Regions from separate parts of the Homo sapiens genome. Here region 2 is linked to region 1. A link means that fine-mapping ties the variant in region 1 to the expression of a gene that starts in the linked region. Tissue or cell type: lung. Region 1 holds a variant in brackets; the other region holds the start of a gene. All regions are shown on one strand. Distances are from middle to middle.

Region 1 (8,000 bases):
AAGTGGTCTGTTTTAGACTCCTATAGCAGTCTCTTCACTGTTTTTCTAGAATTTACTTGCTAGCCAATCCTAAAACTGAAGCCACATATTCTAGTTTTTTGTTACTGCAGCATTCTACTTCTGGTATCAATAACTATTTCAGTCAGACTTCAATCAGGAAAGCAAAGTCTTTATGAGTAATGTGAGATAATGAATATTTATGGGTATTAGAACTCGTAATTATAGAAGGAGCTGGGCAAGTAAAAGTTGGAAATGGGGATTTAAAGGATTAGAGAAAAGGTCACCAAGCAGTTCTCTTAAAGCCCTGGCATGGGTGGAAATATTGGCATCTGCAAGGGAATCTGATAAGTCAATTCTACCTAAGGGGCCAAAGTGCAACAATGAAGGGGAGGCTCATGGAAAAGGGTCTCTGAGAAGCTGTTGGCTGTAAGCAGCTACCACCTCTGTGGTTTCACCTGAAAGTATCTGATGATAGGCATGGGCCACTGTTGGTCATCAGAGCCAGTAGTTATAAAGAGCCGGGTGCAGAGTAGAGGAACGTGAGAGCAAGTGAGGATGTGTTGGACACATCTACACATTTCTTTCTCTGTATGTGATTACAAAACAGCCTTCAGTGAGTAATGACTATTGCCTTTCAAACTTGCACAAATTCCTCTTTTGGCCAACTCTAATCTAGAACTATACAGGGAAAGAAAGTCTGGGGAACGTAGCTCCCAGATTAACTAAACTGGCAACAGGGTAATCCAGCATACTCCCTAAATGTCTGCCTAAATTAAGTCTGCAATGCTCCTCAAGGGCCCTGAGCAGATTTCAGAAAGGCTCCAGGAGATAGCTCGGGAACATTGACAAACAAAGTCATGAGGCATTTGGGTTATAAGACAGCCTTTGTTTATTTGCCTAATGTCTTGAGGAGCACTGGCTAGGGAATCAGGATGCTGCAATTGTGGACCTGGATCCACCACTCACTAGATTCATTTATCATGAGATTCATTCACCACTCACTAGATTCACCAGTCACCTTGCCCAATTTGTTCAAATTATCTGGGCTTCAATTTCCTCATCTATAAAAGGAGAGCAATCCCCCCTGGGCTGCTTTCTCTATACATTGCTTTGAGGAGCCAGTTGGTAGCTGTCAATGCATTTGTTTAGCTGATGTAATGAATTTATGGACATGCAGAGAGCAGCCATACATAGCGAGAGTAGCTGTCCTTCCCTAGAGTAGCTGTTCTTCCATAGAGTAGCTGTCTTCCCATAGAGTAGCTGTTCTTCCATAGAGTAGCTGTCCTTCCACAGAAATTTGGCCAATCCCAGCTGCCCTGCCATAGTTTTGCCTAGCAGGTTTGTGCTGTTTCTGCTGAGGTAGAAAACTCATAGAAACCAAAGCCTCTTGGCTTCTCCTTATCAGATGTGCCTTCCCAGCTCTCTGTCCTTAACAGAGCCCCTTTCTGACGCCAGGTAATGGGTAGTGGGGAGGAGCAGCTGAGATTTGAATACCCCAGGCCTTCACTATTTCCTCTCCCTACATACTCTACCCACCCCCTACCCTCCATCTATGATTTCTACCTGCCTACATTCTATTCACGTTTCAGTCTCCAGCTCAAAGATTATTCTCTTCTTCCTAAATGTTTTCTGATTTCCCTCAGCTGGATTCAATCTTTTCCATTCCTTAAACCCCCAGGGCAGCCCATCTTTGATTGCATTTACGATACCCTGAGAATACCCCAACACATATACCTTTGAGTACTTATCTTATTCTTCTACCAAGTGTCACATTCCTAGAGGCAGGGAACTTGCTTATTGAGCTCGTATAACAAATAAATAATTTTTGGCACCCTTCACATTAAAGTGTAGACAGAACTTAGTACACACATATTTGGTGAATTGAGTTGAAAGAAAACAAATTGAGGACATACAGCCACATGTTGGTGTCCTAAATAACAATAGTCTCTAAGGACATAGTCGCCCACAAGAAGAAATAGAAAAATGAAGAGTTTATTATTCGCAGCCACATGGGTCTCCATTATTATGAATGTTTTGTCTTCACTTGATAAGGTCCCTCCATCATGTTGATATGATGACCTCTGAGAGGGGACAGTCCAAATAGAAGCTAGGTCTCAATCTGCCTATACTCAGAGGTAAATGATCTTTATAGAACTCCATATTCCACAGCACAGGATGCAAATATTAACCGGGACCAGTGACCCCTCTGTTTAGGTTATGACTGGAGCTGTCACTGAGCCACATCCTCTCTAAGAGACAGTCCATGCACCCAAGATAAGGTTTCAAGAGGCCTTTGAGCCAGGAAAATTGTTTGGCCAAGTGTCTGTGTCTTTAGTCATGTACTCTCTGGGTTGGTGGGTTCTTTTCTCTCATCTCAGAATAGTTCCCAAAGCAAAACTGATATCAGAAAATGTTCATGTTATCTCTCCAGCCTTGAGCAAGTCACTTCCCCTCTCTTGACCTCTGTTTCCTATAGAAGGAGGCAGATAGAAATAGCTCTTAAAGGTCCCGCCCAGCTCTGATATTCCAGGACTCTATTCTGAGCTGCAGGCTGAATTCCCAGGGCCCCAGGCTACTGGCCTTCTCTTCTCTGCTTCTAAAAGGATGTATGGCTCAAATTTTCCCATGGGCCTCAGCTGGGGCATGCTTCCTGTTCTCTGGAATACTGTGGCTCTGCAGGTGATAACCATTTATCTGATTTATCTGCCATTATGAAAAGGTCCTTCAGCCCAGACGTTACAAGGAGGGAGGTCATTTATCACAGACCCTCAGTAGTATCTCCCTAATCCAAATGACCAGTGTGTTCACTTGAAAATGTTCATGTCCCAGTCACTGCAGAACCCAAGAGGCACTGGGGATACCAAGTTCCAGAAAGAAGCCTGTGTAGCTGGAACTATTAATGCCCAAGGCATGACTATTCATTATTAACAAATTCAAGTTCATCCGCAAGCAGTAATCCTGCATATGTTAAAACTCCTGCTTACCATCTTCTGGTTGGTTTATATAATATATGACTATGATGATTTGTTAGAACTGTGTTAGACTATGATGACTGCTATGTCTGGAATTGGAAAGGAATCTAGAGCTCAGCTAGTCCAAACCCCTGTTTTTACAAGTGGATAACTGAGAGCTAGAAAGGAGATGGCCCAAAATGCAGAATACGGCAGTGTCAGGAACAGGACCCAGGACCTCCAACTGCCAGGTTCCTGTATATCGTATTACTCCAAAGCAGAGGTCACCAAGATGGTGTACTCTAGTTCATGCAGTTACTCACAGAAGAATCCCTTTCCCAGGCCCTCATTCTAAATCTATTTAGCTTTTTTTTATTAAGTTCTAGCAAAAGCAGTTAACTGGTTTCTAATTCACAACATATTAAAAATAAGCAGACAGAAAAGTACAGTGAATAGGCTGATAAAAAGACAGGAAATAAAACATGACATAAAGAAGACTTCAGAAGTTCAAGGCTTTATAGTCCGGCAATGTTTAACGCCAGGTCAAGCGACATTACACAACTCAATATCCCCAAGATTATCACTTTAATATAGTATCACAATGGTTGACATTCATAACAATGTCCCTGGATCACCAAGAAAGGGTTAGCATGTTTCACTTGAGAAAGTGGGTACTTCTTTAAAGTACTTTTTTTTTTTTAAGTGTTACACCAAAAAGAAAATTTTTAGTTATAGTTAGGTAAAGCTTTGGCTAT[C/T]TGGAAAACTGAGTCAGATAAAATAACACAGCAGCTGGGAGGTTCAAGGAAGTGACATTTCAGCTGTGTGCAGATAGGCACATTCTATAGTAACAAGACTGGTGTGAGTTCGGCTGGTATCTGCAGAGAAGAGGAATAAATAGCAAAGCCATGATCTCATCTTCTGTTTACACTTCAATTCCCAAAGTTAGTGATTAATTGTACTTGCGTTTTGTTGCCAGGGCAAATTGTTTTTCTTTGAAACTCCCACTTATTTTAAATAAATAAACCATTAGTTTCAAAACAGGAGTGTCAAATGTCAAGATATTTCTGACATGCTAAGCTAACGAACAAAACAATGAATTCATTAGAAGCTACTAGAGATAGCCGCCTTTGAGAACTTTTCTCTAATGACTTTGAAAGGCAGCAGGAATCATTCTTGGTAAGAGATTTTTTTCATGCATCTTGGCTAAAATTTGGTCCAGAGGTTGCAAACACAAATACAACTTAAAAGAATTGGATTAGGTATAAGATAATCGAATAGATACGTCAAGAATTTATACTCAAATAAATATACCAACTAGCTATCATACGAAGCTTCCCAAACTCCTGTCTCACATAAAATCAGCTTTAAGCCACCAGTTTAGGATCTCTGCTTGGATCTCTGAATTCGCACAGGGCCTCTGGCTCTTCCAAAGAAGGGAATTCTTTTAGCAAACAGGCATGTTTTTTGCATCTAAGTCTTAACACAAACATGTACACACAGAGATACACACTCAAACTATTTTTGGGTGATTCCAATAAATAGTTTCTGTATTAAGACTGCCTATTAAACATTAGTTTTCATTACATGACTTTCCTGCTTAAAAGTTTTCAGTGTCTTCCACTTACTCACAGAATTAATGGCATTCAAGGTCAACCATAATTTTCTTTCCATGTATCCTTCCAAGTACATCTCCTCCTACAATCCCCACAGACTCCCTGGCTACTCACTGTTCACAGAATGGGGCTTGTACTTTCAGTTCTTGTAAACAAATGTTTATTGGATAACTATTATGTGCCAGGTCCTGTTCCATGCACTGAAGACACATCTATAAAGAAAATAAAGTCCTTCTCTCCTGTAGCTTATATTCTAATGTGGATTGTTTGCCTGCTTTGAGTGCATATGCAGTGCTTCTGCTTGTGTGAAAGCATTTGTCACACTGTGTAATACCTGCCTGTGTCTGTGTTCCTCAATCTCAACACTGCTATTGTGTGCACAGCACTGTGTCTATCTCTCATCACCTCCATCTCATGCTTTGCTCGGCAGTAGGCACACACTGGATACTCAATGAATGACTTATATTGTGTATACAGTTTCCATTCTTTGGAAATGTGGTAAGTTCCTGTTGTGCAGAGAATCTGTCTGCGAGGTTATCTAACTTTTTAAAACTTTCATATTGAGTTATTTTTAATAAATAAGCTGCTTGGTTATTGACAGCAACAACAAATATCAAGCTACTTCTAATGGAACTAAATAAGACGAATGAAACTGATCAGATGTCCACATTGAATTAACTTGTAATGCGTCTTTTCTCAAGAATCCTTAACCTCCTTTCTTTGGGTTTCTCAGGCTGACTAGCCTACTCTTGGGTGGCCCCTTCCTTTTTCTTTCTAAAGATAAGGAAAGAAGCCTAGCTGGGAAACTGCTCATCTTGTTCCCTTTCTCTTTGACCTCAAAGGTAGAAACTGAGGACCAGGTGCTGGCAACCTTCTGTGGCAGGGAGACCACAGACACAGAGCAGACTCCCGGCCAGGAGGTGGTCCTCTCCCCTGGCTCCTTCATGTCCATCACTTTCCGGTCAGATTTCTCCAATGAGGAGCGTTTCACAGGCTTTGATGCCCACTACATGGCTGTGGGTAAGTTGGAGAAGTGACTCATCCTCAGGTCTCTCTCTCTCTCTCCGAAGATGAAAACTGCCTTGTGACCTCTCCTTTACGATGGAAATCTGTGTGTGCACCACATAGATTTTACCATTAATGTCTTAATGCATTTGCTCTATCACGTATCTATCCATCTATCTACCCTCTATCCATCCAGCAATTCATCTTTTACAAAGTGTTTTAACGTAAATTGCAGACATCAGTATACTTCTTCCTAAATAATTCAGCATGCATATTATTTTGCTAGAGTTTCATATTTGTTCACAGCATTTTTTCTTTTTGTGTAAAATTGACATAAAATGGAATATACATATCTCATGTATACATTTGTTGAATTTTGAAAAATCTGTATTTGTGTGTAACCCAAACCTCTAACAAGACACTGAACTTTACCACCAGCCCAGGGGGTTCCTTTGTGTCCCTGCCAGTCAATCTCTGCTCCCACTTCCCTTAGAGGAAACAACTGTTTTGATTTTTTTTCTGCTGTAGATTAGTTCTTGCCTCTTCTAAAACTTCATTTAAATGAAAACATACAGAATACATTTTGGGGGTGAGGATTCTTTTACTCAGCATAATGTTTTTGAAGTTAATTCATGTGTCGCATGCATCAGTAATTTGCTCCTTTTCCTGGCAGAGTAATTTTCCATTGTATGAATATACTAAAGTATGTTTACTCATTCTCTTATTGACGGCTACTTGGAATCTCCCCATTTTTTAGCTCTCACTAACAAAGTTTTTATGAACCTTCTTGTGCAAGTCTTCTTGCAAACATATGTTTTCAATTCTATTGAGTAAATATGTAAGAGAAGAATTGCTGAGTCATAGGATAGGTATACGTTTAGCTTTATGAGACATTGCCAGACCTTTTCCAAAGCAAATGTAACATTTTTTATCTGTCCACCAATGTATGAGAGTTCTGGCTGCTCCACATCTAAACCAACATTAGATGTTGTCAATTTTTAAAAATTTTAATCACTCTGGTGAGTATGTAGTGGTACCTCATTGTGGTTTAAACTGCATTCCCTTAATGACTAGCAATGTTGAACATCTTTTCATGTGCTTGTTGGCCATTGGTTTATCCCTTTTGGGGAAATGTACATTCAAATGCCTAGGACAGGGCTTGACCCACATTAGGGGCAGAAAGAAAGAAAGAGGTAGCATGAGGTAGAAGTTAAGAGCACAAGCTCTGTACCCAGCTTGTCTGTATTTAAATCCTGGGTCTGCCACTTATTATCTGTGTGATTCTAAGTTTGTTAATGCCTCTATGTCGCCATTTCATCCTCCATAGAATGTGACTAGTAACAGAATGCATAGTAACAAATGTGTAATTCTTCCTGAGGTTGTTGTCCCACACACAGTTATTATTATAACTGTTAGAGGATAGTGGTCCCACCAGAAGTCAAGTTACCTGGGTTTGAACTTGGCTTTTTGTGACCTTGGGTAAGTTGCCTAACCTCTCTGAGTTCCAGTTTCCTAGTCTGTAAAGTGAAGATAATGGCTACCTCTGGGCTGTATGAGAGGATTAAATGAGAGAACGCATGAATCTCCTAACATAGTGAGTGGCCCATATCAAGTGCTCTATAAATGTTGGCTGTAGTCTTCATCATCATGCATGTATTGATGGAGAGGCTTTACCTGCCCTACAGATGTGGACGAGTGCAAGGAGAGGGAGGACGAGGAGCTGTCCTGTGACCACTACTGCCACAACTACATTGGCGGCTACTACTGCTCCTGCCGCTTCGGCTACATCCTCCACACAGACAACAGGACCTGCCGAGGTAGAGCCTACCAATGATTGTATGCATTGCCCTTATAGGCCACATCCTCAATAACATTAGATGAGGCTCAGAGAAAGACAGATATGCAATAGGAACAAGTAAAAATGAAGTCAATGATGCACCTCAGACACCACATGGATGAAGATGCAGAAATGCCCACCCAGCCTGGAAACCTGATCTTGGGTTCCCAAAGGAGAGAAGCTCTAGACTATTTGGCCATCTTTCTTTCTGGGGCAGCATTTTTCACTATACAGGTTGCTGTCTCCTATCCTATTGTAGGCAATTGGTCTGGTCAAGTTAGGGGAAAACTTGGGTTTCCCAGTTCCTTCTCTTTGAGCCACGAATTATGCTTTACCCAGCAACTCCTTTTCTCTTCTTTTCCATGGCCCCTAAGTTCCTCTACAATAGAGAGACCTCAGTCCAAAGCAAAGAAGTGAGAGAGGAAAGAGGCAAACAGAAACAGCCAGAAAACTTCCCATTCCTTCTATCTATCTTTGTTTTCATCTATCATCAACGTACCTACTATGCTATAGTCTCGTGCTTAGGGAGGGATGGAGAAATGGAAGGGTTTAGCCACTTTCTAGGAGGAGCTCTTGGGCTAGTGGGGTAATGGG
Region 2 (8,000 bases), 27 kb before region 1:
GGCAGGCTTAGTTTCTCTGAACCTCAATGTCTTTACTTGTAAAAAAAGATGTGAATACTATATGCAATAATATATATAAAAGTATCTGGCATATACAAATGACATCTTATCAAATCAAAGGTGCCATCAATTATAAAATGTATCATTATGTTATTTGTACCAAAAGTGGCAAAATCATGCCAGGGGAGATTTTCAAATTACAGATTCAGGAGACTTACCCACAGATTCATTGGGTTTGAATCTCCTGGGATGAAGCTCAAAGATTGTCATTTTTTAAAAATATTTTCCCCATTATTCTGTTGATAGACTCAGAAGCCAGGACTTTCGGCATGCTGTCAGTCAATGTGCTGAAGAACCCAGATTTTCATTCTAAGCTGCCATCTTTGGAGCTATTTATCAGTTTCTCAAATATTCTGTAGGAAGCCTGGATTTCAGCCCTTACCAACAAAAAGTCATTGCCCAAATTCTTTACGTTTTCTAACCCATTCATTGAATTCCAGAAGCTCTAGCTCAAAAGTTGCATAAAATAAATACTTTGGTAGAACATGTAAACCAAAACCTCTTCCAGTGGTAGGAATATTGCCGCATTTACCCTTAGTAGGCAGCTCTCTGATCCCTTTCCCGGACTACAGGACTATAGTGCGCGGGTGCTGAGCCCACCTCAGTCATTCTACGCTTTCATGATTCTAAATGATGTCAGTTCCTTGTATGCATTTTTTAATCGCTTTTGCCAAACTCAAAAAACTAGTTGAACCTTTTTAAATATTACTTTTTCTGAATATCTGTGATTAAATTCTTAGTATCAGTAATATTATGAGCACAGAAAAAGCCAATGTCAAGATTATTAGAGCTATTTTGGACTCCTTGACAATCTTTTAGGTCTAGCAAACTACCTAACCCCCTCCCAACGACATCATTTCATAGTCTTCATATCCACATGTTGATATCTATGATCTCAACTGAGTCCCACCCCCTGATTTCATAATTGAACACACTGATGCCCCACCCCTCCACCCCTCAACCCCCACCCCTGAGAAAGTAAGTGACTTACCCAAGGTCACATGCAAGCTGGCCTATAGTCACTGAGCCCAGTTCTGTTTCCAGCCTAATGTCCCTTCCATTCCTCCCACCCCTGATGACCCATGATCTCTTAGTGACACTTCAGGGAGATTCATCAAAAGCATCAGACAATATGTAGTGTAACCAAGTAGAAAACTGTCCTGAATCACATGCAGATCATTCCTGGGCCACGTAGTTCCTGTTTTTATGCAGATTTCCTCTGAGCCTTGGCTAACTCCCAGGGAAGCGCACATATCAGATCTGCTATATATTGGCAGAACTTTGGCTTAGAACACATCTCGAATGCTTTCCATTGAACATTGGCAGCCTTGAAGAAACATGGCTAGAAAATTATTCCAGGAGGCCTAATTGCTCTGTGACACTTTCCAAGGAGAAGCTGATGGCTTTCTCGCCCAAGCTCTTCCCTCTGTACCCAGAACAAATGACTGCAGTTCCCAGTATATGCCCTAAATTAGGAGAGGGCAAACTCCGTGGCAGCATGAATTGAGGGAATGTCTTTACTGGGCAGGGGCCCTCTTCCCAGCACAGTGTGCATTTTGCCAAGCTCTTTCTCCTTCAGTTTTAAAACCCTTGTGTATTCCAAGAGAAATGTCGTCCATGTGTTTCTGATTCATTTACACGTAAATCATTAAAATGTTGTTTTGTGAGAGTTATTTAATGTGTGCGGAGCCTGTGAGTCTTCTTAACGGGAATGTTAAAAGCTTTTTTTCCTGTGCTGACTGAGACAGAACACATTTTGCTAAAACAGTGCCTGAGTTCAAACATATCCTCCCATCTCATATACTTGTACCTGCTTTATCAACCACAGCCTCTTGATAATGCCAAGCTTGGCAAGGCTGGCATTCAAAAGTGTGAAAATTAGAGAAACTGGAGAGAAAATGGAGTAAGAAGTACAGTGAGAGTCAAGCCACTGTTCCCCAGAACGTGCCAAAGGAACGTTATCTGAGGGTAGACAGTGCATGTGTCTGCCGCTTTGGTGAGTGTGGCTGGCAGCCCTCTCTCTGGTACTCCCCTGGACACTTCTACAAGCACAGTCTTATTTAAGCCTCATAGTAACTCCCATTTTCCAAATGAAGACACAGAATCAGATACCTTAAGTATTGTGCCCAAAGTACACAGCTGTCTTGGGTAGAAAGGAAAGATTACAGCTAAACTCTGAGTCTAATCTTCTTTTCAAAATGACTCAGATTGAGTTTCTCTATGAATGCCGTCTGTGTGTGTGCATTTGAAATTCCATATGCATTATAAAATGTTAATGAGTAGCAGTGTAATACAGTGGCTAACACTTCAAATTCTGCCTCTATTACTTTCTAGCTGTGTGAACTTGGGAAAGTTACTTAACCTCTCTGGGCAATTTCCTCTGAAAAATGAGAATATTGCCAGCCATGTATACAACATATAAAGATGACTGAAAAGAATTCATATATTAAGTGCTTAGAGCAGTGCCTGACACGTAGCACTCAATAGCTGTTAGCTTCTAGTGCTAGTGGCAGTGGGGAGTCATAAATAACTGGATGATCTTGGCAAGTGGCATATTCTCTCTGAGCCTTAGTGTCCTCACTTGTAAAATGAGTATAACAGCAGCACTTTCACCAGTTTGCAAAAGTAACTTGAGATGATGTTAATGACTAGTACTGTGTCTAACACAGAAAAGGTGCACAGTCAAACTTAACTTTTACACCCAGATACACCTCTCCCTATTCAGTGTTGGTTGTTGTTGTTGTGGAGGGGGTAATTTTCTTATTATTCAGCTCATCTTAGATCTAGTGTTGATTTCTCCGGAAGCCATGGGTATAGACATATATACAGGCCCAGGTCTTTCTACACCCCTGGGGAGGTGAGATTTCTTGCTGCGATGGGCCCTTTCTGGGCTGGAGTAGAGCCGCACACACTCCGAGCAAGTAAACAGTGCCACAGGTATTGCTCATGGGGAGGAACAACCAGCCAACTTCAGGACTTGGTGCTTCCCCAGTTCCGGGCCCGTGGCTCTGTTCACAGGAAAACCTGTCGTTGTGTGTGACTCTGATCACGAGAAAACCTGTAGTTATTTGGGGCTCTGCTCACAAGGAAACCTGTAGTTATTTGCAGACAGACGCTCTGGGATTTAGACCTTTTTTTTTTCTTCTAGTGTAGGTGCTAGAATTGCCTTCTTAGTTGGTTGTTTCTATTTAATTGCTTTTCTTTCATGGGTGTCCTGAAGAAAAGCAGAAAATTATAGTCATCTGGCAAAAAAGACTAAAGAGAAATTAGACTTTGTCCCCTTTCACTCTCTCTCTCTCTCTCTCTCTACACACACACACACACACACACACACACACACAGAGTGATACAAATACCTGCTTGAGCCCCTCAGTTATTTTCTCTCAAGGGCTGAAGTCAGCCACACAGGATAAAGGAGGGAAGGGAAGGAGCAGATCTTTTCGGTAGGAAGACAGATTTTGTTGTCAGGTTCCTGGGAGTGCAAGAGCAAGTCAAAGGAGAGAGAGAGGAGAGAGGAAAAGCCAGAGGGAGAGAGGGGGAGAGGGGATCTGTTGCAGGCAGGGGAAGGCGTGACCTGAATGGAGAATGCCAGCCAATTCCAGAGACACACAGGGACCTCAGAACAAAGATAAGGCATCACGGACACCACACCGGGCACGAGCTCACAGGCAAGTCAAGCTGGGAGGACCAAGGCCGGGCAGCCGGGAGCACCCAAGGCAGGAAAATGAGGTACGTGCCAGGGGAGGAGAGGGCACGGTTCCCTTTTGGGGACCAGTGTCAAATAGCAGGGAAGGTCTGACCTTGTCACTGACAGACTCACCTGCGTGTCCTGCATGTGGTAGTGAGGGGCTTTCTCATCAATTCTTAGGGCTCTGAGAAGGGAGCTGTGGGTGGGCTGGGTGCCTTCCCCAGGACTCCAGGAGACATAAAACTTGAAACGGGAGACTTCGTGCAAATCCTGCTCCGGACGCTGCTGAAGCTCAGATTTCTCCCACTGCCTGCACAGGGTGCTGCCTGCTGGCGAATGTGACTCTCCTCCTGTTCACCCACAAGGCTGATTTTTCCGTGTTCCTCCTCTGGAAAGAGCATTGCTTTCTCTCTTCCAGCACTTTGTGAGTTAGATATGTGTTTGTGTGTTCATTCCTTCTGACCAGAAAAGAAACCAGCTTCCCATAGCTTGGCTCTGTGGTTTCTTCAACCTTTACAAGTTTGCCAGTTAAACCTCAATTTAGAAAACTAAAAATCTGTCCCCATTTTACAGTTCCCTATAAATTTTCTGCATTTCTCATTGAAATCAGAGGCAGCTGGTGGCATGAATCAGGCTATGAAGTACACCAAATGGCTCTTAAAGAGATATCATACTTAAAAAAAAAAAAAGGATTTTAGAGTTCTGAAATCAAGAACTTCAAATTCTAATTGGTTTTAAACTCTTTAACCTTTCTTATTCCTCATTATACTTGACACTCCTTACCAGACCTTTCATACAAGTTCTATCCTGCAAGTCTGAAAACCCAACCACCCTAGTTATTTTTATTAGTTAAGTGTTAATGCTGTTACACACACACACACACACACACACACACACAATGCTCTGCAGATGTGTAAGTCCCTAAACACATCTTTTACTATTAATTTTCTTTTCACTTGGGAAAGTGTTTTTATTTGTTTCTCTTCTGCAAAGTAACCTAGCAACTTTTCTGGACCTGAGACCAATGAGAGGCTTCAGACTATGTTAACTCTTTGAACTCCGATTACCTGTGGTTCAGAGAGATAACCAGGTCCTTAAAAAGTGAGTGCAATAATTCTGTTCTTCTTAAAGCCATAGTAATTTTAAACCTGCCATTAAACATCATTTTTCTTTCTCCAAAAAAAAGTGATTTATGTCAATCTACATTGAATGATAATCTCATTTATCTGTCAATGATCTGGTCTGAATCCCACCCTACCATTCAGTGCCCCAGCCCATATCAAACTACTTGGCTGAGTAACAATTCTGTATCTTTGCATATGCTCATCCCTCAACCTGGAGCAACCTTCTTCTTTATTTTCCACCTAGAAGACCTGATTGTTCAAGCTGGCACAAATATCTCTTTCTCTCTCCTGACCACCATATTCCAGAGTGAGCATCCCCTCCTTTGTCCTTTGTTCTGTTTCTGTCCCTTGAAGCTGCATCTCTTATTGTCCTTGTAGTATCCCCTTGTTTAAATGTCCACCTCCCCTTACAAGTCTCAGCACTCCTTAAGTTACATGATCTATGTCTTCATCTTTGTATGGCCAGCACCTAGCATAATGTCTATTTCCTACCAGCCATTCAATACCTATTTGTTGAATTGAATTCAATTTTTGAATAGCCAAGCAACTACGAGAAAGGTGCTCTGCTAGAAAAGTCTCCAGCAGGTCTTGTCTCACATGGATACAGTATTTCAGTGTTTGCAGAGCACTTTCAAGAGCACTGTCTCATGGGGGTTTCAGATTCTGGATGAAGTAAGGATTTATGGATAAGTAGTGGGTATAAAAGCAGTTAAGCAACTTGCCCAAACCACACTGATGATCATGAAAAGGTCCAGATTCAAATTTGGGTCTTCGGGCTCCAAGTTCAGGATTTTTTCTACTATATTCCACTAGACTTTCAGCCAAGTGTATTATTCTAAACTGACGGCTCATAATTCTGACTGTACGTCGGAATGATCTGTGCTGCCTTGAAACATGCCAGTGCTCAGGCCTCACCCCAGAGCAATTAAACCAGAACCTCCTGAGGAGGGACTTTGGCATTAATATTTTTAAATTTTTTACGTAAAGCCATGGGTTTTTCAATTATTTTTCACAGGATTAATTGCTTTGGCCAGATGCCTGGGCATGATATGGGCATGGACCCAGCTTCTTCTGTGAGCTCTTTTTATTCCCTTCTTCTGTTGAAGTTAATTCACCATATGGTATTGAGCATGATGTGACATCTCTTGGGGTATCCTTTTCATCGTCTGTCAAATTAGGGTGCTCTGTAAAGGATCCATGCAGTCCCTTCCAACTCTTCAATTCAAAAATGGAGTCTTGGTGTGGAGTGGGTTGAAACAAGGGGCGTGTACGGACAGTGTATGGAAAAGATAGCAAGTGCCGTTCATGCCGCAATCATAGATATATGCAGGCATTTTTACAGAGTCCTGCTAGCCTGTTCCTACGGGGGGCCTCTGAAATCTCAGCTCTATATATTACTTTTGACATTTCTGCAATGTAGCTAAACTTTTTGATTAGCCGGAGGATAGATAGCAGGTGTTGGGAACTATACAGCCGGTGCCTCGTATACAAGAAGCCAAAAACATTCAGAGAGTGTGACGAGGAATGAAAGCTGCCACTTATATTCTTCAATTTACAGCCCCTAACGCAAGCAGGCAAGCATATGCTCAAGCCCATTACATGAAGGGAGATATTTGTTTCATATGTTTGAAACCGTTTTGAGATGCAAACAAAGTAGAAGGGAAAGCTTCCTGGGCCTTCCTCCCACGCTGACCAGTTGCCTACCACACATGGCACCGGGCTTCTGGGCTACACAGGGCTGTCTGCTGCCAGTCCTTGACAGAACCGGCCTCAGGAGGCTCAGTGTCTCCTCGATGTGGTCTGGAAAAAGCAGTCATGGAGGAAGTTGACCTTTCGGCCTTGCATAATTTGGGTGTCGCTATTATAGGGAAGTCCGGTTTAGGAGCCAAAGCTCATTCCTGACTCTTGCTTTTTGGGAACTGGCAGGATGGAATAATTATAACTAATGTTTGGCTAGGGCTGGACAGTTAACAAAATACTTCCCCATCCTCCTTTACGCTGATAGCAGTGCTGTGGGAAGTCGTTATTATTACTACTTAATGGATGAGGAAACAAGACCTCCCATGACCTCCTAAAATGGAAAGGATAAATAAAGTCAAAGCTGGAGCTGAATCTAGCTCTTTTGACCCAGGGCCAGTGCCCTCCCCTCCTCAGCAGGGCTGAACCTGAACTCCCAGCCCTGTTAACACTGGTTCATTTCCTCACTTGAAAATGGGATGCCTGGGCCCTGCCACCTGGTTTTTTGACTCAGCTTTCCAACTAATTCACAGGTTAACTTGGACATATGCCTTCCCTTCCTTCTGCCTCTGAGGCCCTCCTTCCACAGATTGGTTTAAGAAAATATTGACATTGGCTATGGGATTAAGACATTTTGTTTTCTTAATAGAATCTCACATATTGCTATTGTAGGGACCTTGAAAAAAATTAAATAAATGTATTTTCTTTTTATTGAAAAAATAGTACATGGTCCTTCTTGACAAATGTAAACATTTTATATGCACAAAAATGGAAATACTTATATTCCCATTTCAGAGATAACTACTGTCAATACCTTGGTGTATATCCTTTCAGACATTTTGTACTTACCTATTTACACTTTATGTAAATATTAACATGACATAGCTACATAATCTATGTATGTAGTTAACTTGCTCTGTTTACATACCCAAAAACTCAAATGTATGCATTACACAGATATATGCATCTGAATACATGGGCAGACTGGGTATTGGAGAGAAACAACGTCCTGATTAGCAAATATATCATTGTTAATCTGAAGATGCTGGTATGGTTTCCCAGCATTGACTTTTTAGGCTATCTAAGACTCAGGCCCCACTTTCATGGATTCATTCATTTATAATCTGTTATATATCAGACTCTGTACTGGGACCTTTATATACATCACCTTTAGTGCTCATAGGAGCCTTATGAATTAGATATTATAATCTCCATTTTACTTCTGAGGAAACTGGGGCTCAGGGAGACTAGTTGCCCAAGTTTTCACAGTCAGTAAGTGAAAGAATTGGGACTTAAATCCAAGTACATTTCACTCCAAAGGGTGTGTCTAACGTAGTGCAATGTGATACCCACAATAATAGAGAAATGTGCAGGGAGCAGTGGCTTGTGGA

The links. PIP is the estimated chance that this variant, and not a neighbour inherited with it, causes the effect.
Region 2: MASP1 starts here. The variant in region 1 is fine-mapped to the expression of MASP1 in lung (TOPMed, PIP above 0.99). The same link has a PIP of 0.9 or more in skin, sun-exposed skin and thyroid.

What each region holds. Positions count from the first base shown.
Region 1 is chr3:187,260,127-187,268,126 of GRCh38, reverse strand. It overlaps MASP1 (MBL associated serine protease 1), which reads left to right. Exons shown (of 11, transcript NM_139125.4): 3 at 5,407-5,584; 4 at 7,255-7,386. Among named protein-coding and RNA genes, the nearest start is that of MASP1, 28 kb to the left of the region's middle. The variant C/T (reference allele first, on the strand shown) is at 3,707.
Region 2 is chr3:187,287,417-187,295,416 of GRCh38, reverse strand. MASP1 (MBL associated serine protease 1) reads left to right here and starts at 3,680. Exons shown (of 11, transcript NM_139125.4): 1 at 3,680-3,789. The coding sequence starts at 3,785. It overlaps LOC101929130 (a long non-coding RNA gene), which reads right to left and starts at 4,145. Exons shown (of 2, transcript NR_135551.1): 1 at 3,881-4,145.